Linked DNA regions of Homo sapiens: regions 1, 3, 4 and 5 are each linked to region 2. The links come from fine-mapping of genetic effects on gene expression. A gene starts in region 2. Each other region holds a variant in brackets. All regions are shown on one strand. Distances are from middle to middle. Region 1 overlaps LYRM4 (LYR motif containing 4). Region 2 holds the start of LYRM4 (LYR motif containing 4). Region 3 overlaps LYRM4 (LYR motif containing 4). Region 4 overlaps LYRM4-AS1 (LYRM4 antisense RNA 1). Region 5 overlaps LOC105374894 (a long non-coding RNA gene).

Region 1 (5,104 bases), 85 kb before region 2:
GAATTAATGCGGTGGGTTTTAAAATATAGCCGTAACCTGCTTTAAGGCAGGTTAGACATAGAGTTGCTTTCAATAGGAAGCTGTGCTGGAGACAACAGGCAGATTCCTGGCAGTATGGGTTGCTGTGGTATGAAAAGATCTGTGAAGTGACACTGGAAACTATAGACTGGGGGGCTTTGTTTCGAGGCCTGGGGTAAATGCAGGTCCAAGGAGGAAGCTTCCATTTTGTCCTGAGCCCCAGGATTCTGTGAGAACTGCAACCCAGTGTGCAAAGTGCAGAAAGCTGCCTCCTCTTCGCTCTCTCAGTTCTCTTTTGTTGTCAGACCTGATGTTTTCCTTAGTAGATTCTCTGGAAACATTCTCTGTTTTTTTTTAAGTTAGGGCAAAGAAAAAATAAAGAGTCTTTCACAATCAGCTGTTGGTGTTTAGAGCTTACAACGCATTTTGCAGTGAATGCTCTACAGAGTATCAAAAAATTCATTAAAATTTCACCTGCACAGAGAAAACACAACTAATTTTACCCCTACAGGGCATCAGCTGTGTTACTAAGGACAGTGTCACCTTTAAAGTCAATTCCTGTGGTTGAAATGAGGACTATATGCATCTGTCCTGCTTCCGGCTCCAACCAGAAGTGGTAATGAGGAGAGACAGACGGATGCACAATGATAGTCTTCACAAAAGCTCGAGTTTCAAAATGAAAGGGGAGAGTACTCAGCGCGTCGCATCCTGTTTGGTGTCACTAGGACCTTTCTTCTCAGAGGAAGGAGGCTATTTATAAACTTAATGGTTACTTCAAGGAGGGCAGGCAGAAAAATAAATCTTTAGCTTCAGATTTCTTAAATCTTCTCTTGGTCACTGTTTATTTTGTCTAATTTTCTATAACTTTTATTTAGTCTTTACACTTATAATTGGTAACTGGAAGGTCCCCAATACTAAATTAAGGTGTGTATATATAAACATATATTATCCCCCCTCTCTTTTGAACAGATGTTGTCATGCTTAGGACAAGTTTAAATTCTAACAAACGTCGAGAAAGGCTGAGAATATAAAAGATAAGCAAGGCTTAACGTCAAAATTGAAGCTCTCTTTCAGTTTTATACAGCTAATCATTAAAGTTCTGCTCCTCAGCCAATTCAGCTTAGACACATCACACACGTAATTAATGCACAAAATGCTGCCATTCATGTGCAGATGAAGGAAGGATGCGGTCTATTTATTGAGCGCCTAGATTCTCAGTTACAAGAATTCTTTGCAAATATGATTTAAAGTAAGTAGTATTTAAAGAAGCAATGGCATTCCAGACCCCAATGTGGAAATTTCTGGGGATAAACATAAATGTGCAATCTTAAATAATGCCTTGTTTTATGAGTTCTGGGTCTTTCAAAGAGGGGCTCAGAGCCAGTGCATAGACAAGAGCATAAACCCAGATCTCATGGTATGCTTTTAAAACATTATGAAGCAATATTTCAATATCTAATTTCACATTAAAATGGGAAATCTGGAAACACAAGGACTTCATTCCCACCTCCGTTTGGAACAGCTGTCCTTTAAAACGTAGAGGCCTTCTAGTCAGCCACAGCGCCCTCCACTGGCACTTCTACACATGCCAGCCTCATCCTTCACTTTCCTGCTCGACCTGTGGATTCAAGAGGGAATAGGACACAGGTGGAGTTCTAGGCCCTTATCCTTGAACTGGATTGAGGAAGGGATGGGAGAGGAGAATTAAAGAAGAAAATCAGGAAAAACCATTTCCTGAGGTTTCCAGGATAAAGGGCCAGTGGAATACTAAGGAGAGGGGGCCTGTGGTGGTTTTAAAACAGGGTCACACATTTTGTGACACCCCTGCCATTGAGAATCGGGGGTCTATGTTCCCACACTTTGAATCTGAGCCTGTGACTCCTTTGACCAAAAAAATATGGCAGAAATGAAACTACATATTTCCAAGGCTGTTTCACAAAAGGCCACACAGCTCTGCTCTGTCCTCCAGAACACTCTCCTCTGCAGTTCTGCCCACCAAGTAGGAAGTCGCACTGCTCTGAGGCTACCACGATGTGAGGAAGCCCCGGCCACACAGACATTCTGCTCTACA[G/A]CTGCTGCTGATCCTGGCCTAGGCACCAGACCTGTCTCCGGGTGATTCCAAACCCCAGCCATTTGAGTACACCCAGTGTTACAGTCTTCCCAGCTATGGCTGATAGCATGTGCACTATCAGCATTCCCGGCCCAGATAATCTGTGAGTTATAACAAAAATGGTGGTTGTATTACGCTATTAATTTTTTTTTTTTTTTGAGACAGAGTCTCGCTCTATTGCCCAGGCTGGAGTGCAGTGGCGTGATCTCAGCTCACTGTAACCTCTGCCTCCCGGGTTCAAACTATACTTCTGCCTCAGCCTCCCAAGTGGCTGGGACTACAAGCATGTGCCACCATGCCTGGCTAATTTTTGTATTTTTAGTAGAGATGGGGTTTCACCATATTAGCCAGGCTGGTCTTGAACTCCTGACCTCATGATCCACCCGCCTCAGCCTCCCAAAGTGCTGGGATTACAGGCATGAGCCACCGTGCCTGGCCTACGCTATTAAATTTTAAGGTGGTAGAAACAGATTGTTGGTATACTAAGGCCTACGGAATACTAAGAAATTATCTGAAATGGCTTCTTTGGTGCTACCAGTGATACTGTCTGTTAGCCTTTGCTGGGTTCTAAGCTTTACCTGAGATAATCAAATTGAGTACTCACCTGTCTGCTGTCCGTTCCTCCCCTCCTCAGGAACCAATGGGAAGGAGGTTTCCTGGGCAGTTTTCATAGACTGCACCCTGATGAGCAGTGTGGTTTAGAAATAAGTCTTGGCTGTTACTGAGGCCTGAAGCACTGAAGGAAGTGTGCTTATGTTATGATCTGACAGAGTTACCTTTGAAAATGAAGTTTCGGTCTTCATCTTGAACACAAGGATAATGACAGCTGATTATCTGTTTCTTTCACAGTGGTTAAAAGTTTTGGTGAATGTGTATCTCAGATTTCTAAAAGTGTGAGTATATAATTTCATCTACAATGGCATGAGGCAGAAGTATAAGTTCTGAAAGCTCCTGTACATTTCCCCAAGCTTCCCATCACATAATTACAAATGAGTAGTGTTGTCCACAGGAAGATACTTGTTTTAATACTCCAAATAACTTATTTCAGTAGCACACATTTTGATTAGGATTGTTGACTGTTTGAAAATATCTCAATAGATCCCCTACTGTGTAAATGTCATACATGTGCACAAAACTTGAGAATGCCAATAGGAAGGGAAAATATGGAAAAGTGCGAATACAGTTGCACCATCGACAGCTGCCAGAGGACTCTCAAGGCCTCCTGTGTCTTCCCCGTGTGTTTAAAAGAACTCTGCTCTTAACAGGTGTGACCACTGCTGAAATCACAGGTGAGCGTAGAAGATTCTCTGCTACTTAATATCTTCTTAAGGCTGTCCTCAAATGCCACAGTCCTCTTACAGACTGAACAAAGAAGTTTTCCTAGTAATGCAGTAACAGTTAGGGATAAGCATGTCCTTGGAGGAGTACTGCACCCAAACATTTTAATCGCTTGGAACTCAGTCATCTGACTGGAAAGCCTACCCAGCTCTCCGGGATGACCCCTTCCTAGGCACTGCCTGCCTCTCTAGGGGGCACCATTCAGTGAGACACAAGCTCTTGGTGTCAACACAATGATCATTCAGGTGACCATTGTTGAATTGACCTCTAGACCCAGTCTCCCACGTTGCCTTGTTAGGACATGCTGTTTCTGTCCTGCCGCTCTGGCTTGAGGAATCTTTCATTTATGTATTTTCTTTAATCCTTTTAGCTACAGCTGTCAAATGTATCCTTACGGCACCAGGTTATTTCCGTGACTAATAAAAAAATCCAACTAGAGTCACAAGATGCTGTGACTTGTTATCTTCTCTGAAGAGTTTGAGGGGCTCGAGGACAAGTTATCACACATAGCAGTGTCTGTTTCATACTCTTACAAACAGGTCAGATGCATTTATACAGGGATGAGAAGTGATTCTCAGGAAATAAAGATTTCTTTCCAAGAACATACTAGGCCTCACGCGCTCCTCAACACTGCCAACTTGGGGGATAATGCATTCTGGGGATGACGTCTTTGTTTAAAACATTTCTGAAAGCCACTGCTCACCCTGGGCTCTCACTATACCCACATATGCCACTATTTTTTTTTTAACTAAGTATTTAATTACTTGTGAGAATGTCTGTCTTCCCCTAAGAGTGTCACCAGCTTAAGAGCAGTGACTAAAATTGTCTTTTCATCTTATATCCCTGGTGTCTAGCAGAACACCTGGCAACATAGTAGGCACTCAATATTTATTGAATCACACATACTTTGTTTTGTATATTGTCTGTGTTGGCAGTTGCATCCTTTGAGGGTAGATTTTTTTGGTAACAGTCAAAAGTCATTCAGAGTCAAGTATGAAGAAAGAGGCCACTATACTACTCAATTTTCTTATGTGTATCATAAACTAAAACTGAAGGCCATTCTGAAAAGGAAGTTTATTGGAATAAACAGACAGACCCTCTAAGGCAAATAATTTGAAAGCTAACACCTGGATGTAGGAATTCTCACATGGTTCTTAAAAAAATTGTTTAGGGATTCATAACTCTTTTTTTTTTTTTTTAATTAAGCTTCTAAAAGTAAACTACTTTCTGCAGTAGTGGGTGGAGCGGGGAATGAAAAATACAGAAATAGGCCAGGTGCAGTGGCTCACACCTGTAATCCCAGCATTTTGGGAGGCCGAGGCAGGTGGATTAGCTGAGGTCAGGAGTTTGAGACCAGCCTGACCAACATGGTGAAACCCTGTCTCTATAAAAACACAAAAATTAGCCGGGCCTGCACCTGTAATCCCAGCTACTCCAGAGGCTGAGGCAGAAGAATCGCTTGAACCCGGGAGGCGGAGGTGGCAGTGAGCTGAGATCACGCCATTGCACTCCAGCCTGGGCGACAGAGTGAGACTCTGTCTCAAAAAAAAAAAAAAAAAAAAAAAAAAAAAGAGTTTCCTCTGATTGTACCTCACTGCTACAAAGCGTTGAAATACAGTGAGTTCCTTTTAAGGAAAG
Region 2 (5,104 bases):
CTCAGTTGCCTTACAGGGTAATACAAATAGTACCTACCTCACAAGATTATTGTCAAAACAAATGTGTTAATAGACATGAAGAACATAAGATAGCAGTGGCACACAGAATTGATAGTGGATGTTGTGTTGCTATTGATTTGCCATCAGTGACAAACAGCTGCAGAGATTAGAGAGGAGGGAAGGGACTTTTCCTGAAATTCACAAGACACAGCCTTAATGTAAAAGGACGTATTTTTATAACAAGTAAGTTTATCTAGGGAGGTAATAGCAGGAATGTCGGTTTTTAGGTCTATGATCTCAGGTAACAGTATAAAATGATTATCAGATTCCTTTGGATAATATATTTATATTTGGATAGTAAATTTAGCTTAAAAGTATATGCTTAAGGTATAATTTGATCAATTATTTTCTGAATGCATATGATCTTACAGTTGCCCATACTGAAACCCATTTTCAATTTTCTGCCTTTCAGGTAGAGTCTTGAATGATTTTCCTAAAGTTTGAATGATTTTCCTGTTGAGTTTCGTGAATGATTTTCCTGTTCAGTTGGCAATTACTCATTTGAAAACGCTTGGGCCTCATTTGCTCATAAATCATTTCCAAAGAGAATTTCAGAAATGGAAGGGTCCTTAGAGATTGTCTAGTCCAACAGTCTATTTCATAAACAAGAAAACTGAAATACAGAGATTGAGAGACTTGTCCAAGTTAGTCTTCGAGGGCTCCACCTTGACTTTCTTACATGCTCTCACATAAACCCTCTCCCTGCCACTTTCCTTAGTGTGTGAACTGCCTGCTGATTCCAAGTCCTTGTGTATCCTGAGTAAGCTTTAATGACAAACTATTTTACTCCAGACTATGGTGAAATCAAATGGTTTCTATTTATTTAACTTGCATATTTCATGTGTTTCCTCAACAGACTTGGTTAAGTACTTGGTGCTAGGTGTTTGGTTAATTCTTGCTAAAATTCCACCAGTATGCTTATTATTACACTCTTTATTCTCCAAAGTCAAAGTCATTAAGTAAAATCATTCTCTCCCGTGAAATTTAACCACTTAACTGGGTGGATACAACCTCAGTGGTATGACCCAGATGCTGTTTTCAAATTTGCAGCATGAGTATATTTTCCAGGCGGGTTTCTAAAAATTTGAGAGTCATTGCTTAAGAGGCTTAGCGTTCCTGTCCTCTGACAGAGGTTGTACTGGGCAGACCCATCTCAGGGCCTGCCAGCTCACACACGTGCTGGAGGGGGGCCTACCTAACCAGGTGTGTTCCAAGGGTAGGCTCTGCTCTTATGACATCCAATCCACAGTCTGGCCAGTCACCTAAGTGAGGCTTGAGGTAAAGAGATGAGTTGATCCAACCAGATTCTTTCTCATGGGAATATGGCTCAAACTCAGAGAGAGACAGGTAGTTAGTAAAAACAAAACAAAACAAAAAACAAATCTAAAAAAAAATGCAGAGAGAGAATCCATAAGAAAATGATGGGTCAGAACCAGCAACACTGTGAAAGCAGAGGCTCTGAATTAGAAAAAACATACAAAGAGTAACAATAAAAGACTCATAGGCAAATAGGGGAGTGGGGAGGCGTGAGAAAAAGTGAATGTGTTATATTAAAGATGTGAGTTTAGGCCCTCAATATCCTGCTGTCAAGGTCCAGTAAGCGGGATCTCTGTCTGGTGAGCCAGGAGAAACTGAGGTTTCAGCTCCAAAGCTTGTGAGACCCTTTTTCCTTTTCCGCTACGCATTTCCACCATACCCTAAATAGAATGGATTCTTGCAACCAAAAGAACTCATTACGACACCTAGGAAATTTTAGGGAGGTGCTAGAGTGTGCCTTCAGCTTTGTCGCAGTGTACTACTCACTGGCCACTTCCACTCTCAACTCTTCCAGTGCTCAAGGGAAGTTTTACATATGCAACACACTGGCCTTAACTTCACAAATGACTGATTTCCATCCCTTTTTTCTCTTCTGCAGAAACATAACACTAATCATGCTCCTAGAATAACTACCAAGATAGCCTTTAGGGGGAAAACGTCACAAGACATGAACGTCTCCCCTGGTAGAAAGAAAGGCTCCTCCCCGAGGTCTCAGAGGCCACACCTGTAGGCAGGAGCACGCTTTTCGATGGCGGAGCCCGGTCCTTGCCTCGCAGCCGCCGGCAAACCACGGTGGCTCCCAGTCCCCGGGGATATTCCGCGTCAGCCCGCACCCCCGGTCCCCGGCCCCTGGCCCCCCGCCCCCGGCCCCCGGTGCCCGCTGGGTCACCTGTAATTGTAGGCGCTGAAACGCTTGCTCTCTCTCAGCATCGCCCGGTACAGAGATAACACTTGTGCGCGACTGGAGGCTGCCATTTTGGAAAGAAAAAAAAATAAACGGGTCCTCTTCGCCGAGGTCCCAAGTACGACCCAACCCACGAAACTCCAGCCTGTGCGGAAACCACGAACGAAATAAAATGCTGCGGCTCGGCTTTGCCAGCGGGCCGGGCCTAAGCCTAAGCGGGCAGCCCTGCGGATCGCGGACGGCGCCAGGCGTCCCGCGCCGCTTCGGGGGCGGGCGCAGGCAGGGCTCGGGGCAGCTAAGGGGGCGGTGCTGGGAGGGAGATGCCTCCGCCCCGCCCCGATCCCGCCCCCGCCCGGAGGCTCGGGACCCAGCAGCCGCTCCACGCGGCGGGAGGGCGGGGAAATAAGAGGACTGGCCGCCCGTGCATCCAGCCAAGCTCCTGGCGGACGGATATCGGAGGCCCAGGCATTCGAGGGACGTGCAGTTGCATCACGGAGAGCCTTTGGGAACCGTCTGGGGTCTTGGCGGAGACATTTGTGTTTCGGGGGCAGCGCCCCTTCCTACATCCAGGAGGCCGCGTTGCCCGGGTTACCGAAGGCCGCCGCACCGACGCCCCGCCCCTGACCGCCGATGCCCCTCCCACGCCGGCTGCGGTCGCCCTCGGCGCTGCCTGAGAGAGTTTGCGGGATTTCAAGGGTGACTTGATTTCGCCTGATCCTGGTCGGCAGGGTGGGGTTTCTTGGCATTCCTCAGGCCGGGGGATGCGACGTCTGGGTGTGGAGGTGATGAGCTAGGGGTTCTGTGGCACTCCGGCTCTGCTCAGGGCGACCTGCGTAGGGGCCTCTGGGGCAGGCCCGCTTTCTGTCAAAATGGCAGCGCCCAGCGTGCGCGGGTATCTCTGAAGTTGGGGTTTAAGATTCTTGCCCGTGAGAGCGAACGAGCCTGCCGTACTTCTGATTTTGAAACACCTGGGTCTGGGCTTCCCGGGCGAGCGGTGGGTGAGTGCCGGCCTCATTGCAGCCTGGGGTACGACGTGGGCGGTTGGTGTTGTAGGGGGTTTACATTGGCCGTGGATTTTTTCCTCTTTCCGGATGTGTTTTTGCTTTTGAGTGAAGAGTTCCCGTGGTTTTGTAACCTAATAAATGCATAAAATGCAGCTTGGGTTGTAGACTTTGGAGAATAATTAGAGACCTTTAGGGCTTTAGGCTTTCTCCAAGAAGCGGAGCAAGTTTTCAACCATGGCTTTCTTCAGAAGACTGCAGCTTTTTTGAATCATCTTATTAAAGTGGTGGATAAAGTTGCTTGTTCTGATCTTTGAGCATGGCACTGGACGCAGGAAGCTTCAGCCAGTCCTAGTTACTGTGTTTGCAAAGCACTTTTCTTGTTTTTGGAATCTTGCTTTATGTAATCAACCTTAGGAAGAACCACACCTTTCTGCACTCAAGCACAGCGAGAAGTACGTTATGCGTGAAAACAAAACAACTTTGCATTAAAATCCATCTTTCTCCGAACCACTTGGTCACGGTTGTGTTCTCATCTGCTTTAGTGTATTTGGTTTTGAAACGATATACCTGCTGTATGTCTAAACAACTTTATATTTTCAGGAACTTTTCTGTTTCCTTTTCTTTTTTTTGAGATGGAGTCTCGCTCTGTCGCCCAGGCTGGAGTGCAGTGGCGGGATCTCGGGCTCACTGCAACCTATGCCTCCCAGGTTCAAGCCATTCTCCTGCCTCAGCCTCCTGAGTGGCTGGGATTACAGGCGCGCGCTACCTCGCCCAGCTAATTTTTGTATTTTTAGTAGAGACAGGGTTTCACCATGTTGGTCAGGCTGGTCTCGAACTCCTGACCTCAGGCAATCCGCCCGCCTCGGCCTCCCAAAATGCTGGGATTACAGGTGTGAGTCATCACGCCCAGCCTCTATTTTCAGGAACTTTAAAGGCAGAAAAAACACTTCTCTGACCTTACCATTCTTTAGTGTACTTGCAACCTGGTGTCCTTGCATCCAGATATTCTTACTAATCCTGATGCAATGACATTTTTTAAAAGGCACTGAAGAGAAAATACTTTTATTAAGATATCTTTAAGTCTCCTCCCTGATTTCTTGAAAATCTCATGTCTGTTATTGTTTATTATTATTTTTTAAACAGGATAGCAAAACTTCTATTACTTCCTGGTTGGTCAGGTCATTGAGCAAATCTAGCCTCTGCTTTATTGAAAGGACTTTTTTGAGTTTTCCCTTTGCTATTTCTTAAAGGATCCAAGACCAAGGCAATTGCACATTGTTATAGAGTAAGATTCAGAGCTGATTTCTCTTGATACACTATTGTGTGCCAGTGATATGAAATGATATGCGGCACCTCAAAGCTACAACATTAATGCAAGTTACTGATAGAGAATGCTATCAGAGTGAAAAGGAAAAACTTGAAGATTATTTTGGCTTTTTTAAAAATAGCAAAGATTACATTATTTTATTATATTTTGCTTTTGAGAGTAAAGTTGGAATAATTACTATATACAATTGTTTCTACCTAATTATCAAGGAATTTAATCATTAACGTACATAATTAATGTATCTAAATTACTCAACTTTGTTGTAATCAAATAAAACTTTTCCAAATAAATATGTATAGTTTAAATAGTTTGGGTAGCTTAGTCCTCTGTTAGTACGAGCAATGGTTGCAGTTAGGAAAGTGATAGGCTTCCCAGTTAATTCTGAGCCAAGTCTTCATAAAAATACCTTATTATTTTATTTAAAATGGTTTACCAATGTGTTGGACATCATTGCCTGGAGAGGCTAAAAGAAAATAATCATTCCGTAGCTAC
Region 3 (5,104 bases), 120 kb before region 2:
AGTTTAATATGAAAACGAATACACAGTTTCTCAAAACAATACGGGAGAGCATGGGTAGGCGTAAGGATGAAAAATACCATCTATTGATATTACAGAGTATCTAACTCTTAAAGATGGGTGATGGATACACAGGACTCATTTGACAATTCTACATACTTTTGTATATTTTCACATTTTTCCATAATAACAGGTTAAACAGCAAAAAGTCTTCGTCATTGCAACTAACAAATTGGGGAAAATGTCATCAAATGTCTATTTAAGAGATCTCATCCCTATTCCTTCTCCTTCCTCTCCCTTGGTAACGGCACTCCTAGGGCTGTGGAGGGTGCGGTTCACTCCTGGGACTGTGGAGGGTGCGGATCACTCCCGGGACTGTGGAGGGTGCGGATCGCTCCCGGGGCTGTGGAGGGTGCGGATCGCTCCCGGGGCTGTGGAGGGTGCGGATCGCTCCCGGGGCTGTGGAGGGTGCGGATCGCTCCCGGGACTGTGGAGGGTGCGGTTCACTCCCGGGACTGTGGAGGGTGCGGATCGCTCCCGGGACTGTGGAGGGTGCGGATCGCTCCCGGGGCTGTGGAGGGTGCGGTTCTCTCCCGGGGCTGTGGAGGGTGCGGTTCACTCCCGGGGCTGTGGAGGGTGCGGTTCACTCCCGGGGCTGTGGAGGGTGCGGTTCACTCCCGGGACTGTGGAGGGTGCGGATCGCTCCTGGGGCTGTGGAGGGTGCGGTTCACTCCCGGGACTGTGGAGGGTGCGGATCGCTCCCGGGACTGTGGAGGGTGCGGATCGCTCCCGGGGCTGTGGAGGGTGCGGTTCTCTCCCGGGGCTGTGGAGGGTGCGGTTCACTCCCGGGGCTGTGGAGGGTGCGGTTCACTCCCGGGACTGTGGAGGGTGCGGATCGCTCCTGGGGCTGTGGAGGGTGCGGTTCACTCCCGGGACTGTGGAGGGTGCGGATCGCTCCTGGGGCTGTGGAGGGTGCGGATCGCTCCAGGTGTGATTTTCATGGGAATGGAACTGGCTCCCTAGGTGGTGTTCATTTCCTCTGGATGCCTCAGGCCTGTCTCCTCCAAAGACGAGAACTTTCTTTTAAGTTTTCCTGCTAAATATACTCAAAAAAGCTTTCTAGCTCTAGACTTTCAAACACACACAATACTGATGTGTATGTGTGTGTGTTAAATACACAAAACACAACATTTATCATTTTATTCATTTTAAGTGTACAGCTCTGTGGCATTAAGTACATTCACATTGTTGTACAACCATCAACAGCATCCTTCTCCAGAATCTTTTCATTTTCCTCCACTGAAACCCTGTAGCCATTAAACACTAACTCTCCATTCTCCCTCCCCTCCAGTCCTTGGCAACCGCAATTCTACTTTCCGTCTGTAGGGGGACTCTAGGGACCGCCGTAAGTGGAATCATACAGCATTTGTTTCTTCTATGGCTTATTTCACTTAGGACAATGTCGTCAAGGTTCACCCTTGCTGTGGCGTGTGGCGGAATTTCCTTCCTCTTTAGGGCTGAGTAACATTCCATTGTACGGCTGTACCACATTTTGTTCATCCAGGCGTCTGTTGAGGGACACTGGGTTGCTGTTGTGAATAATACTGCTCTGAACACTGGTGGGCAAGTATCCTTTTGAGTCCCTGCTTTCAGTTCTCTGGGGTATATACTGAGAAATGGAATCACTAGATCATTTGGTCATTCTATTCAATACTTTTAAAACCAAATCAGTATTCTTCTAAATGATAACTTGTCCCCTTTCCTGCTGCCTTTTTGACTGGGGCTGGGTTGAGGGTGGAGAAGCGGGAAGACACGATAATGTAGTACTTAAGAGCCTGGGGTTTGTCCCAAGACAAACCTGGTTTAAACACCTGCTCTGCCAATCACTGGCTCCGAAACCTTGGGTTTCACCTAACCCTGTAGTCTCAGTTTCCTTACCTACAGAATGGGATAATGTCAATTTTACATAAGTTAGATGGTATTTATAATGTCTTACTACAATGCCTGGCACACAGCTTTCAATTAATGGCTTCTAGTAATCGATTACTTCCATTTCAACAATCCCAGGTGTTGTCAAAGAAGGTGGCATTTACAAATGAGTCCCACAGGTCCTAGCCACAGTCTGTGGTAATGACATGCTAAACCGCCCCAAGGAGCAGCGCCTGTAGGAAGACTGGGTAGACTTCCTTCCTTTCCTGTGGCAGAGGGCTCCGCACAGAAGAAACTCTGGTCTCTTCCTGATGTCTCTTAACAGCTTTATGGAGATATAATTCATACACCATCAAATCTATCCAATTAAAGTGTACAATTCAATGGTTTTTAGTATATTCACAGTTGTGCATCCATTACCACAATCAATTTTAGAGCATTTTCATTACCCCCAAGGAAACACTACTCATTAGTCGCCTTTCAAATGTCCCATCCTCTCTAGCCCCTGGCAACCGCTAACCCACTTTCTGTCTCGATGCATTTGCCTATTTTGGCCATTTCACAGAAACGAAATCACACAATGCGTGACTTTTTGTGTCTGGCTTCTTTCCCGTAGCATAATGTTCTCAAGGGCCATCCGTGTTCTAGCATGTATCAGTACTTGGTTCCGTTTTACCACCAATAATATTTTTATTGTATGGCTATACCACATGTTGCTCATCCATTTATTATCTGATGGCCATCTGGGTTGTTTCCACTTTTTGGCTATTGCTAATAAGGTTTCAATAAATATTTGCATATAAGTCTTTGTGTGGACACGTTTTCATTTCTCTTGAGTATACATGTAGGGGTGGGATTGCTGGATCACACTACCTCTTCTTTTTAAGCCCCAACATAGAATGGTTGCTTCTAGGACCTGTCAAGAGATTCTCAGACAAGCAAAAACCAAGCTCCTGGAGTTGGCCCCACTCCTCCACTTAGTGAGAAGCTTACAAAGGTGTTCAGATTTGTACTCTGTAATCTCACTGCATTGATACTGAACATCTTCTTTGAGCTCAGTTCCTCCTCACAGAGGAACTCTAGTGTCCTTTAAATAATGACTCTGCTACCCGGCTAGTGATATGCCTCTATCTGTATTTAAGATCATTTCCCCTGAATGATGGAGATTTTAATATT[C/T]TGCATCTAATGTCCTGTGACTCTATCTGAATAATTAAAACCACCCAGTTGATTGTTGCCCTATTCTCAAAGACAGGATTCCTGCTCTTTTGTAGACATCTCCACTCAGGTCACACACTGGAGTAAGAGTTGACAGGCTTTGTCCTTGCAAGCTGCCTGTGGCCCACCACCCAAATTATCCTCATGTGAATGTATTTTTGAGGGAGGATATGGAGCATTCATCCTGCCATTTTTGCAAACCACAATAGCCAAGTCTTCTCACCCCTTTCCACTGTGTTACTCAGAGGCCTGAGGTGGTGCAGAGTTCACTTTGCCTTTGGTCAAAACGTACTGGGGAAGGTGGTGGCTCCACAAGTTGCAAAGAAAAATACAATGGTGCTGTCTTTCAGCAGGTCAAAAAGGATTCTATAAAGACTAATGGTAGACAAGGGGCACTGAGGAGGATTCATGAAAGTAAATTTCATGATGACAAAAGAAGACATTTCTGCCAAGATTTTATATATAGAAGATATTCAAAGGCCAGGTGTGGTAGTGCACACCTGTAATCCCAGCACTTTGGGAGGCCAAGATGGGCAGACTGCTTGAGCCTAGGAGTTTGAGACCAGCCTGGGCAACATGACAAAACCCTGTCTCTACAAACAATACAGAAACTAACTGGGCATGGTGGCACACGCCTGTAGTCCCAACTACTCGGGAGGCTGAGGTGGGAGGATCACCTGAGGCTGGGGAGGTTGAGGCTGCGGAGAGCCGTAATCATGCCAACTGTACTTCAGCCTGGGCCAACAGAGTGAGACCCTGTCTCCAAAAAAAAAAAAAAAAAAAAAAAAAAAAAAATCGATAGTTTTTCTTACTTAAAGAATTTTTATCAGTAGCCAGTAAGAATAATGACTGTTTTTTTTATGAATGATTTCCAGACTAAGTCACAAGAAAACCTTATATACTATGACATCTGTATATTAAGGAATTCTAACATGCTCCCCACTGAAAACACAAGAAAATATCAAGATGCAATAGAAAACAAACCTGGTGGCAGACAATGACTATGGACTTTATGCCTGGGGGTAAAAAGAGAAAAAAATAAAAGTTAAGAGTAACAGTTAACAGAAAGAAAGAGTTCTTTGGGATTTCAAACAGAAGCAAGTGCTAGAGGTGTTTAAGACAGGTTAAAAGCTAGAAATGAGATTAATCCTTTAGACATAGACATTTTGCTCTTCACAATCAGGTTAATACTTTGAAGTCTTAAAGAAAGTCTTTCGAGCAATCAGAGGACTTCAAAGTGATTGTTGCACATAAGCCTAAGAGAATTTGATCTCAAAAGAAGAGTAATATTGATGTTCGTTGAGTACCTACTATGTTCTAGGCACTTATGCTAGGTACTTTGTAGATGTAATTGAATGTCGTCCTTGTTAACACTCTCTGGAAATAGGTTTTGACATCTCTGCGGTAGGGAGAAGAAGACAGGCCTGGAGAGCATAAGTAGCTTGTTCTGAATGACAATAGCTGGTGAGCGGCAGGGCAAAGCAGGCCTGCCAGCCCAGTGCCTCTGATCTTCCCAGGCACCGCTGCATTTCCACCTCGCTAACTGGAGAAATACCAGCAACTCTGGAAACATGGTGAGCATATCATATCCAGAACTCTGACCAACGAAGGCGCAGGCTTCATTCAAAGTTAGGCAACAGAATATTAAGGTTCATTCATGACACAGGTCACACTGTATTTACAAATACAAACTGGAGTAGGACAATGAGGAGTATCAGATAAAAGTTAATGTTTGGCTCGATTTAAAACAGTAGCACTTGACTGGTTTTCGACACTTTTGCTATGATTGTGTTTAATATTAACAAGATATTGTTAAATTAAGTTTGGCCTAAAGCTGCCTCTTTACATATTTTAAAGGTTTCTGTGTATGCAGTGAACTGTAACCTAACTGGATGTGTACACAGACTATAATCTACTCTTGTGCTGATCACTGAGCTTTGGCTATAGGCAGCCAATTGTTCAA
Region 4 (5,104 bases), 160 kb before region 2:
CCAGGACAACATAGTGAGACCCTATATCTACAAAAAATTTAAAAATTAGCTGGTTGTAGTGGCGCACACCTGTAGCCCCAGCTACTTGAGAGGCTGAGGTAGGAGGATTGCTTGAGCCTGGGAGGTAGAGGCCACAGTGAGTTATGATCATTTCACTGCACTCCAGTCTGGTGACAGAGCAAGACTGTTTCAAAAAAACAAACACAAAAATCCAACCCTACCACTGAGAAGTGTATAAAGCATTGGTGAAGAAGTACCCTTAGCTATGGGGGAGGTGGCCTGTGTGGGGATGAGACACTGGCTCTAGGACAGCCAGGCCTGCAGTTGCCACCAGCTCACCCCTGGCTAGCCAAGTGCTTTCAGATAAGACCCTTAAAATAGTGTGAGTGAGTTTTCATGCTTGCAAAATAGGGGCGGTAACTCCTGCCTAATATAGATTGTTGTGAGCACTGAGGGAAGTTAGTTGTGAAGTGCCAAGCAAGCCGTTGGTCTCAACATCTTTCTCTTTTCCCTCTGGCCTCTGCCAGTTTGGTTTTTGCTGATTTTATTCTGAGGATAAACACTGTCTGGCTCCAGCTGAATGTAGGAAGCATAACTGAATCTTCCAGTTGGGAGAACAAATGATAGTAGCCCTGAGTGTGCTAACCAGACAAACTGTTTTTGTTACCTGGGCAGAAAGTATCCATTTGCTTCTTGTCCACATGGTGGGACGCTCTTAGTTTGTTTTCTGTTGCTTATAACAGAATACTTGGAACTGGATAATTTATAAAGAAAGGGAATTCATGTCTTATAGTTATGGAGACTGTGGAGTCCAAGGTGAAGGAGCTGCATGCGGTGAGGGCCTTCTTGCTGGTGGAGACTCTCTGCAGAATTCTGAGGTGACGCAGAGCGTCACATGGTGAGGGGGCCGAGCAGGCTTGCTCAGGTTTCTCTCCCTCTTCTTAGAAAGCCAACAGTCTAATATATCTATATGTTTGAGACAGGGTCTTGTTCTGTCACCCAGGCTGGAGTGCAGTGGCACGATCATGGCTCATGGCAGCCACCAGTCTAATATACCTATATGTTTGAGACAGGGTCTTGTTCTGTCACCCAGGCTGGAGTGCAGTGGCACGATTATGGCTCATGGCAGCTAAAGTGATGGGCTAAAGTGATCCTCCAGCCTCCAGCCCCAGCCTCCTAAGTAGCTGGGACTACAGGCATGAGCCACCGCACCTGGATCATTTTTGTTGATTTTTTGTAGAGATGGCATCTCACTATGTTGTCCAGGCTGGTCTCTAATTCCTGAGCTCAAGGAATCCTCCTGCCTCAGCCTTCTAAAGTGCTGGGATTAGAGGCAAGAGCCACTGTACCCGGCCAATAAATTAATATATTAATGGATTAATCTATTCATGATGGCAGAGCCTGCACGACCCAATCACCTCTTAAAGGCCCATTCTCTCAATACTGCCACTTTGGGATTCAGTTTCAACAGGAGCAATGAAGGGAGACAAATATTCAAACCACCGCAGATGTGTATTAAGCATGCACATTGTTACGACATCATACACATGCTGTACATACACTAATATCACTTACATACACTGCGTTTCCTTACAACAGCCTCTTCAGAGATTATCCACCCGATCTAAAGCAGCTACTCTTGAGGGGCCTCCTGTTTGGTGTCTGTTCTTTTTGTTTGGTGTGTGTTTTTATACAAAAAAAATTCTTTTTAGAGATAGGATCTTGCTATGTTGCCCAGCTTGGCCTTGAACTCCTGGGACAGGCAGAGTCCTCCTGCCTTGGCTTCCTGAGTGGCTGGGACTACAGGGGTGCACCACTGCACCCAGCTTGGACCTTAATTTATACGGACAACTCCACGCCTACATCTACAGATAGTCTCTGCGCTTACACATCCTGCTCCGTTCCGAACCCAGCCAGCTCCACACATGTAAGGAAATGGCATTTTCTTCATTCAGATGGACCCTCAGCCTCCCCAAAGTTGGCACTGTGAGTCTCTGGTAGGGCAGGCCCAGCAGGCACGTGGCTCTGCTCTGCTCGGGAGTGATGTAGGGCCAGGCTGCCTTTGGCTGCAGGCTGCCCACAGCAGAGAGCTGCTTCTCATCCTAGGCTTGGCCCAGAGATCCCCGCTTCACATCAATGCCATTCTCATGAGCAAACCCATTTACACATACCCTCGGAGTGGGCCTGTCCCTATGCAAACCTGTTTGGCAGTATCTCCTGAACCAGAACAACCCCATGATCCGAAATTCCACCTAGGTACAGGAGTGTGTACACACGAGCACCAGGAGACACGCACAAGAATATTGACGGTGGCATTATCTGTCATAGTCAAAAGCTGGAAACAATGCATGCTGCAACAGCCCATCTGAGGCAGGGTGGGCAGAACCGGGTGAGGGAGGTACACGTCCACGCGCCTCATCTTACATCACCCGAGGCACACACCCATCAGTACCA[T/C]GGCGGGCAGAACCCCTGGTGTTCTCACTTGCCAACTGTGTCTCTCCCTTGCTGAGGGGAATGGCTGCTTTCCACTTGGTTAGGTACTCATAGGATGTGATGCCACTTTCCTGGATGACTTTACTCAATCCTAACTCTCAGATGGGGAGTGGGCTGGAGGAACACCTATTCTTCACATCTGGTTGCCGAGAGGACTTTTCCCATATTTGTGGTCTCTTCCCCTCCACCAACACCCCCAGTGCTGCTCACAGTGACCCGCTTGGTGGGTGACAGCCATTGTCCACACTGACTGGTGGCATAAGCGCATCTCTCAGAGGTTCTGAGGGTGGGTGGGTCACGGCTTTCTTGTCTCTCTTCTTGTACCAGTGGGGGCTACAATCTGGGCAGTGCATCTGCTTTGCAGACTCATGTTTCCCTTGGATTTGAAGGGGTTAGTTGAAGGTATATACTTATATAATTTTTTTTTTTTTAAAGACAGGGTCTCACTCTGTTACCCAGGCTGGAGTGCAGAGGCATGATCTCGGCTCACTGCAACCTCCACCTCCTGGGCTCAAGCGATCTTCCTAGCTCAGCCTCCCGAGTAGCTGGGACCACTATAGCACGTGCCACCACACTCGGCTAATTAAAAAAAAAATCTATTTCTCTATCTATCTATCTATCTATCTATCTATCTATCTATATTTTATAGCGATGAGGCCTCACTATATTGCCCAAGCTGATCTTGAATTACTGTGCTCAAGTGATCCTCCTGCCTTGGCCTCCCAAAGTGCTGGGATAGAACCAATTTTGACTCTAATGTTGTTCCTTGTAGCCTATGTCAATTATCAGGATGACATTCTGTCTCTATGATCTTCATATTTTTTATTTCTTTTGTTTTGAGATGGGGTCTTGCTATGTTGCCCAGGCTGGCCTTGAACTCCTGGCCTCGAGCAATCCTCCCACCTTGGCTTCCTGAGTTGCTGGGATTACAGGTGTGAGTCACCGCACCTGGCACATCACTCCTAGTTTACAGCTGAAGAAATTGACTGTCAGAAAGGTTGAGTCATGTGCCAGGAAGTAAGAGCCTGAGCTTGGATTTGAACCCAGGTCAATCTGACCCAGATCCACTGCTCTGAACCATCTACTCATCAAACAAATACACACACAGAGAAGACAGCGTATCTGCACTTGATCCACAGGAAGGACATTTTGCTTGGGTGCCTCCTCTCCTCCTTGGTCTCTCCTCAGGATGCAGCCCTAGACATTTAGACCTGTCAATGTCTGGACCAGAGGCCAGTGTCCCTCTCTTTACCATCTTGGACCTGTCGTGGCTCTTCTGCAGGACTCAGCAGGACGCGGTCCCCTTCTCAGTAGGGAACTTACCTACTAAAAAATGGGAACTTACCTCTTGCAGGCCTCAATATGGCTCCATATTTCAATAAAACCCAGCATGTGCCAAACTGCAAGTTACAGAAACTGATACAAGCCAGCGTCAGCAAGGAGGGGAGTTGGCTCATGGATGCTGGGTTCTTGCCTGGAATCTAAGGGCCATGGGGCCTCTCCAGGGCCTGGAAGCCAGGACGTATGGAGCCCTGGAACCAGCAGGAACGGTCCCTGCCTCATCTCTGCTCTCTGAGGTTGCATACGTCTCTCCTTCCAGAGCGGATTTCTCTTCTCCCCTGTCTACATGATGGATGGAAGATGACTGCTCTGGACCTCCCAGGCCTGTGTCACTTGAGCTCCAGCAAGAATCCCAGACAGAAACAGCAGCTCTCACTCCTAGTTCTAAGAGAAAGTACTTCGCCTACTTGGGGACAGGTGTCATCCCAGTTCCATCAGCTGTGGTTAGAGGTGGGGGTGGGGTCATGATGCAAAATGGTGGTCAAGAACCCCCAACTCCTGTTGTGAGGGATCAAAAGGGGTTCCTGTGAGCTTGGCTGACACCCCCAATGTCTCTACTGCAACCAGGACTCTGCAAAACACAGGCATACAGCGATGAGTGAGGTGTGGGCCTGTGGACGTGTGTTCCTGTTAAGGGGATGTGCTGTTGCCTCTTATTTCAGTGAGGGGCAGTCCCCCTGCCAGTCTTTCAGGATCAAAGTGCTGGTGTTATCTTTGCTTCGCCCCCATCCTTTATTCTGTGTCTCCATTGCTCATCAAGTCCATCATTTGGAAATGCCTTTTGGATTCATTCTTTCTTCTCCATCTGACCCACACAGACACTGCCCCGTCCTCTGCCAGCCCCTAGTCCCCTTACGTCTCCGTGCCTGCCACAGGGCCCTAGCTGGTCTCCCTACCCTCTCAGTGGCCACTCTGTGTATCTCTCCCTAGCTGCTCCACTGCACATCGCTGCCGTACATCGCTGTTCCCTTGCATAGCAGCTCCCTTCCCCACCACATAACCCCCACACCCCTTATCCTAGCATTTATGGCTCAGGTAGAAGTAGTTCCTCCTTCTGAATATTACTCCCTCCCTCTTCCAGCCCTATTTTATCTGTGCCTCTCCCAGGGAATTTACAGAACTCGTACAGCTATTTACATACATGTCTTAAGGACAACGCAAAACGTTCTGTGATTAAGGGATGAATCCATGTTTGGTCCATTTCTTCATCCCCTAAGGTATCTGGCAGTTTCTAGAAGGAATGACAGAGGAGCTAATAGTTATTGCTTAC
Region 5 (5,104 bases), 710 kb before region 2:
TCCCGATTTCATAAAGTGCAGAGGGAGAGGCCGTGGGCTCAGGTTGGTTCCACCATCTGGGGCTCCAGCATGTGGGACTCCACCACCTGGGGCTCCACCCACCTGGGGCTCCACCCACTTGGGGCTCCACCCACCTGGGGATCTACCCATCTGGAATCCCCCACCTGGGGCTCCACCCACCTGGAGCTCCACCCACCTGGGGGCTCCATCACCTGGGGATCCACCCACCTGGGGCTGTGTCCACCCTGTGGGACTCCACCCACATGAGCCTTCACCACCACTCCACTTAACTGGGGCTCCATCAGGTGGGACTGCATCTACCTAGGGTTCCTGGCTTCCCTTATCTGGGGCTTTTCCTGGCTCCAGTCACCTAGGGCTCCACCTAACTGGACAGCACTTCTTCTCAAGCACCCAAGGGTCTCCTGGGTGTCCTGGCCAAGGTGCCATCTGCAGGGAATCTTTGAAAGACACCGTTCTAACCACCCCCTGCACCCCACATCCTCCTCAACACCCTCAGGAAAGTACCTGTTCTTAGAATGGTGTGCCAGGCCCTTTTGTTACCCCACACGCCTACCAGGCAGGACTTTGGCAGCCCTAGGTAGACCTTGCAGCTGGTTTTTCCCACCTCTGCACGTGTGGTACCCACCGCCTGGGGTGCCCATCTCGCTTGTATCCGCATGACAAACTTCTATTCCGGCTGGAACACCAGCCCAAAAATCACCTCCTCCAAACTCCTCATCTTACTCCAGCTTGGCTGCACCAACTCTGACTTTGTCACATAAGACAAAGAAGGTAAATATCTCTTTCACCTACCTCTTTGAACTACAAATCAAAAAGATCTGAGTTTGAATTCTGGCTCTTTTACCTATCAGCTGGGTGGTCTTGGGTGCATCAACCTTGCAAAGCCTCATGCTACTCACCTGTCAAATATGAATAGTAGAGTCCACTCCACAGAACACTTTGAGAGATTGAAATAATCACACTGCCTTCACCCTCCCCCAAACAGTAAGACCCTCAGAAGCATCTTATTCATGTTATCCCCAGGAGTTTGCAGGGCCTTTACCACTGGAGGAGCTCCCAAACTATCTTGTGAATGAATGATACTGGTGACTCAAGAGAGAGCCAGTTTATAGAATTTTCCCTAACAGGCCAGAGTCATGGCATAGCTCTGCCGTGGGTTTACAGGGTGGTTCTTTACTCAGATCCACATAATAATGCCTGAGGAGGTTTAGAAAGATTCTGCTGCTCCCACTCAAAGAGACTACTTCTGGGAGAGATGCAGAGCTGGGGAGGGAGCTTTGTTGATAGCCCTCCAGGGACTGCAAGGTGCATAATGGTGGGTTTACCGATGTTTCCCTCCTCTCCTCCCTCCCAGCCCCTCTCCAGCTTTGCCTCTCCTCCTTCCTCTTCCTGGGCTGTCACAGATAACAAGCAGCCACCTTCCAGGGACAGCCAGAGGTAAGGCAAGGATCAGCAGGAAGTGGGAGGAGGAATGAATGAGCTTTGAACACAAAGCACAGTGGCTCAGGGTGACATGTGGCTCACCTCAGTTGCAGGGACTAAAGGATGCACTTGTCCATAAAACATCCTGCAAATGTATCCTGCAAATGTATCCTGCAAATGTATCCTGCAAATGTATCCTGCAAATGTATCTTGCAAATGTATCCTGCAAATGTATCCTGCCACTCGTGGATTTTGGCAACTGCATGCGTGGATTCCTGCAAAGTCAATGAACACAACAGTGTAGCCCGGGATCCTTTTCAGGCAATGCCCTGCGGACCAGTACAAGTATGGAAACTGTGCAGGTGGTGGTGGGCCAGTCAGCTAAGCACGTTCCCAGTCCCCAAAAGGTCAGCTTTGCCCTCCCAAGCTGGAAGGCAGCAGTGAAGGCATCCCAAACAGTCACTTCAAGACTCAACCCTGGCTCAGTTTACCTCAGCCACTGTGATTCCTGCTTCCTTCTGCAAAAATCTCAGCAGGGAATGTTCTCTGCCACTTGCACTTGGGCTGGAGAGAGACTAGGGTCAGTCGATCAGTCTGCATGTGTGGTACCCACTGCCCAGCGTTGCTCACCTCTCTTGTATCTGCCTGACAAACTTCTATTCCAGCTTGAACACCAGCTCAAAAGTCACCTCCTCCAAACTCCTCAGCCTACTCCAGCTTGGCTGCACCAACTCTGCCTTCGTCACATGAGACAAAACCCAAGAACAAAACCACAGAAATTGGCTCACATATTCCTCTTCTCTCAGACTTTGGGCACAAAGTGCCAGCCACCTACTCCCAAGAAGCTGCTGAGGATTTTTAAAATGCAAATGCCAGGTAGGGGATAGGACTTAAGAGTTTATTCTGAGAGAGGTGGAGTAAGTGCCTTACCCCGGTCGCTAGTAAATGGCAGTCCTGGTGACACGTAGCCATTTCCCCCATTCCTCCTCCCTCTTTTCTTCTCGGCTTAGACTCACCCTAAGGTGAGGCAAATTGCTGCTGCCCCTCGGCTCCCTCTGCCACTCCATTCCTGGGAAATGGCTGCCACCACGGCTCCACACCCTACCTCTCCTCTGGGAGGGAAGGATTAGCAGGATCAATGACCTCTGGCTCCAAGAGGGTGATCACCCATCTTGAGACTTTCAGTTCTAGGGACACAAGCATGGCCTTCATCCACCTCTCATGACATCACCCGGTGTTATATGGGTTTTTCTCCTATTGTTAGACCACAACTCGGCTCCCTGGATTCTCTGACAATGCCACAATTGGCAGCATCATTGGCTCTTAGCTACTGAAAACATAACAGAGACAAGTCTTGCAACAAAAAATCAATATGATGGATAATAGGCAGGAAAAGCAGCCCCCACAGAATAAGGGAAGGCCCCAGTAAGTCTAATTTTCATTGACCCAGTTTCATTGTCAAAGCACAGAACATAGCAAGACAGAGTGACCTCCACACCCAAAAAGCTTCAGACTATTCTGCAAATGAAGCCACCACGGACCATCTCTCTCTTCCTCCA[C/G]GAGCCCATGGATGTTAACCACCAATGAGTGAGTGACAAAGAGAATTCCCACCTTAGAAAGGAGCAGCTGAGTCTGCTAGTCATTTAAGACAGGTGATTTTCATACGTATAATGGGGGAAAAAAATCACTCCACCCCATTCTTATATAGGAATGTAATGGGATGGGGAAGGGGGCTCTAGGTGGTAAATGGAGCCAATCATGCTTGCATTTCACTTCCATGTATCACTGCACTGGCGGCATTAGCTCCCAGAAGCAGAAAGGAGTGTGAGGTGTGGATTGATTCTTTCTTACAGGACCACAGTCTCATGAGCAGTCAGCGCACATTGCCGAAATGTGGAAAGAATGTCGGATTGATTTCAAGAGTTTCGGGTTGACTAATACAGCCTCAAATTTCTTTATCTAGGCAGTGAGTGACGATGGCTGCACTAGCATCCTGGGGAGGAAATTAAAGCATTCGTCGAGGGCCTGACTCAGGAAAGGGTAGAGGAATGGATTATGTCAGCCACAGGAGACCAAGGTGAGAGCACGAGGGAAGGAGCAGGAAGTTCGACCCTTGAGTAGCATCCGGAAGCATGAGAAGTGGTGAAAAGCTTGAGCGATGAGTTTTTTAATATGATACTTCTGTGGAACAAAAATTGGTCTGTCTCCCCCAAACTTCAGCAAAGTCTGTTATCCACACAAAAGCTTTAGTGAGAGTTTTTTTTTTTTTCTACCTCAGAGCAAGGGGAGTTGTGAAAATGAGTAAAACGGCTGAACTCCCTCATCTGGGTCAAGGCGATGGGGAGCATGGGATGGCGCGATGTAGAAGTAAGGCCCCCTGTGAGCTGGGGAAGACATGGTCGGGAAAACCCATACCAAAGCCTTCCATAAACCTCGAGGAAGAGTCGGGTGAGGTGGCTCACGCCTGTAGGAAGCCAAGGCAGGCGGATCACCTGAGGTCAAGAGTTCGAGACCAACCTGGCCAACATGATGAAACCCTATCTCTACAAAAATACAAAAATTAGCTGGGCGTGGTGGTGGGTGCCTGTAATCCCAGCTACGAGGGAAGCTGAGACAGGGAGAATCACTTGAACCCAGAAGGCAGAGGTTGCAGTGAGCCAAGATTGTGCCACTACACTCCGGCCTGGGCAACAGAGCAAGACTCCATCTCAAAAAAAAAAAAAAAAAATCTCGAGGAAGACCTCTGATTCTCCATAATTGGAGAATCATAAGCCACAGGCCCATTTTGTTCCTAAGGGTCAGGGTAGCCCAGGTAACATCTGGGTTGTATACCTAACGTGAATTGAATTTGCATTGCAACTACATTAATACTTCTGATTTTTATACAAGGATAGAAAAGAAAAACACAGCTATTAATGTGTCCTATCTGTAGTGTTTATCAATGTACTAGCACCTTGGGAGCACCTGCAGTGTGCAGGGTTCCATTCTACAGGTGCTGCTGACCAAACTATCTAAGGTGAAGGTGCAGCTGCTGTCATTCCCAATCCATGCAGTGTGATGTGTGGCCCTACTATGAGTGACTTGTATGCAGTTTGCACCAGATGGGACTCACCACAAGAATTCAACAGCACCCAATCTGGTCTATTCCCTGTTTAATAAAAGAAAGCCCATGACACATGCTTGGATGCCATGCCAATGTCCTGTTACTAGGAACATTACTCAACTCTTATTCTCTCTTGCTGTGTTCTCATTTCAGATCTTGCTTGCTGATGGACACTGATCTGCACACCAGCATGAATAACACTGCTCTAGGGCATACAAATAAGTACAAAATCCTTGCTCTCAGGGAGCTTACAAACTTTCCATTATACTAATACCCATTGAAATATGTTCACTCTAAGACAAGGCAATCATAAAATCTACTTACAAGACAGAAATGATGAATTGCAAAGTGAATTCATAAATAACACAAATTAGGAGTTTAAGAAAGGAAGCCATTTGGAGAAACCAGAAGATTAGAAATGAAAGACAGAAAACTAGATTTCAGGTCTGTGGAGGGGAGAGACCTTGAGCTGAGTCTTGAAGGTTGTTTAAGATCAAGTTACATCTCACCACAAAAAGCATAAGTAGGTGAGATAATGCATACATTAGTTATCTCCAT

What was found. PIP is the estimated chance that this variant, and not a neighbour inherited with it, causes the effect.
Region 1: its variant is the best candidate, but not a certain one, in a credible set for the expression of LYRM4 in testis (GTEx, PIP 0.81).
Region 3: its variant is the best candidate, but not a certain one, in a credible set for the expression of LYRM4 in caudate (GTEx, PIP 0.64).
Region 4: its variant is the best candidate, but not a certain one, in a credible set for the expression of LYRM4 in spinal cord (GTEx, PIP 0.71).
Region 5: its variant is the best candidate, but not a certain one, in a credible set for the expression of LYRM4 in monocytes after LPS (Kim-Hellmuth 2017, PIP 0.72).

What each region holds. Positions count from the first base shown.
Region 1 is chr6:5,173,797-5,178,900 of GRCh38, forward strand. The region is part of intron 2 of LYRM4 (LYR motif containing 4); the gene reads right to left. The region is part of intron 3 of LYRM4-AS1 (LYRM4 antisense RNA 1); the gene reads left to right. Among named protein-coding and RNA genes, the nearest start is that of MIR3691, 28 kb to the left of the region's middle. The variant G/A (reference allele first, on the strand shown) is at 2,090.
Region 2 is chr6:5,258,382-5,263,485 of GRCh38, forward strand. It overlaps LYRM4 (LYR motif containing 4), which reads right to left and starts at 2,569. Exons shown (of 3, transcript NM_020408.6): 1 at 2,267-2,569. The coding sequence starts at 2,352. It overlaps FARS2 (phenylalanyl-tRNA synthetase 2, mitochondrial), which reads left to right and starts at 3,132. Exons shown (of 7, transcript NM_006567.5): 1 at 3,132-3,279. RefSeq lists an enhancer at 1,800-1,849 and silencers at 2,060-2,369, 2,430-2,649.
Region 3 is chr6:5,134,583-5,139,686 of GRCh38, forward strand. The region is part of intron 2 of LYRM4 (LYR motif containing 4); the gene reads right to left. The region is part of intron 3 of LYRM4-AS1 (LYRM4 antisense RNA 1); the gene reads left to right. Among named protein-coding and RNA genes, the nearest start is that of MIR3691, 11 kb to the right of the region's middle. RefSeq lists a silencer at 4,973-5,104. The variant C/T (reference allele first, on the strand shown) is at 3,103.
Region 4 is chr6:5,096,296-5,101,399 of GRCh38, forward strand. The region is part of intron 3 of LYRM4-AS1 (LYRM4 antisense RNA 1); the gene reads left to right. It also overlaps a transcript of LYRM4 not described here. Among named protein-coding and RNA genes, the nearest start is that of PPP1R3G, 14 kb to the left of the region's middle. The variant T/C (reference allele first, on the strand shown) is at 2,455.
Region 5 is chr6:4,550,220-4,555,323 of GRCh38, forward strand. The region is part of intron 2 of LOC105374894 (a long non-coding RNA gene); the gene reads right to left. Among named protein-coding and RNA genes, the nearest start is that of KU-MEL-3, 58 kb to the right of the region's middle. The variant C/G (reference allele first, on the strand shown) is at 3,003.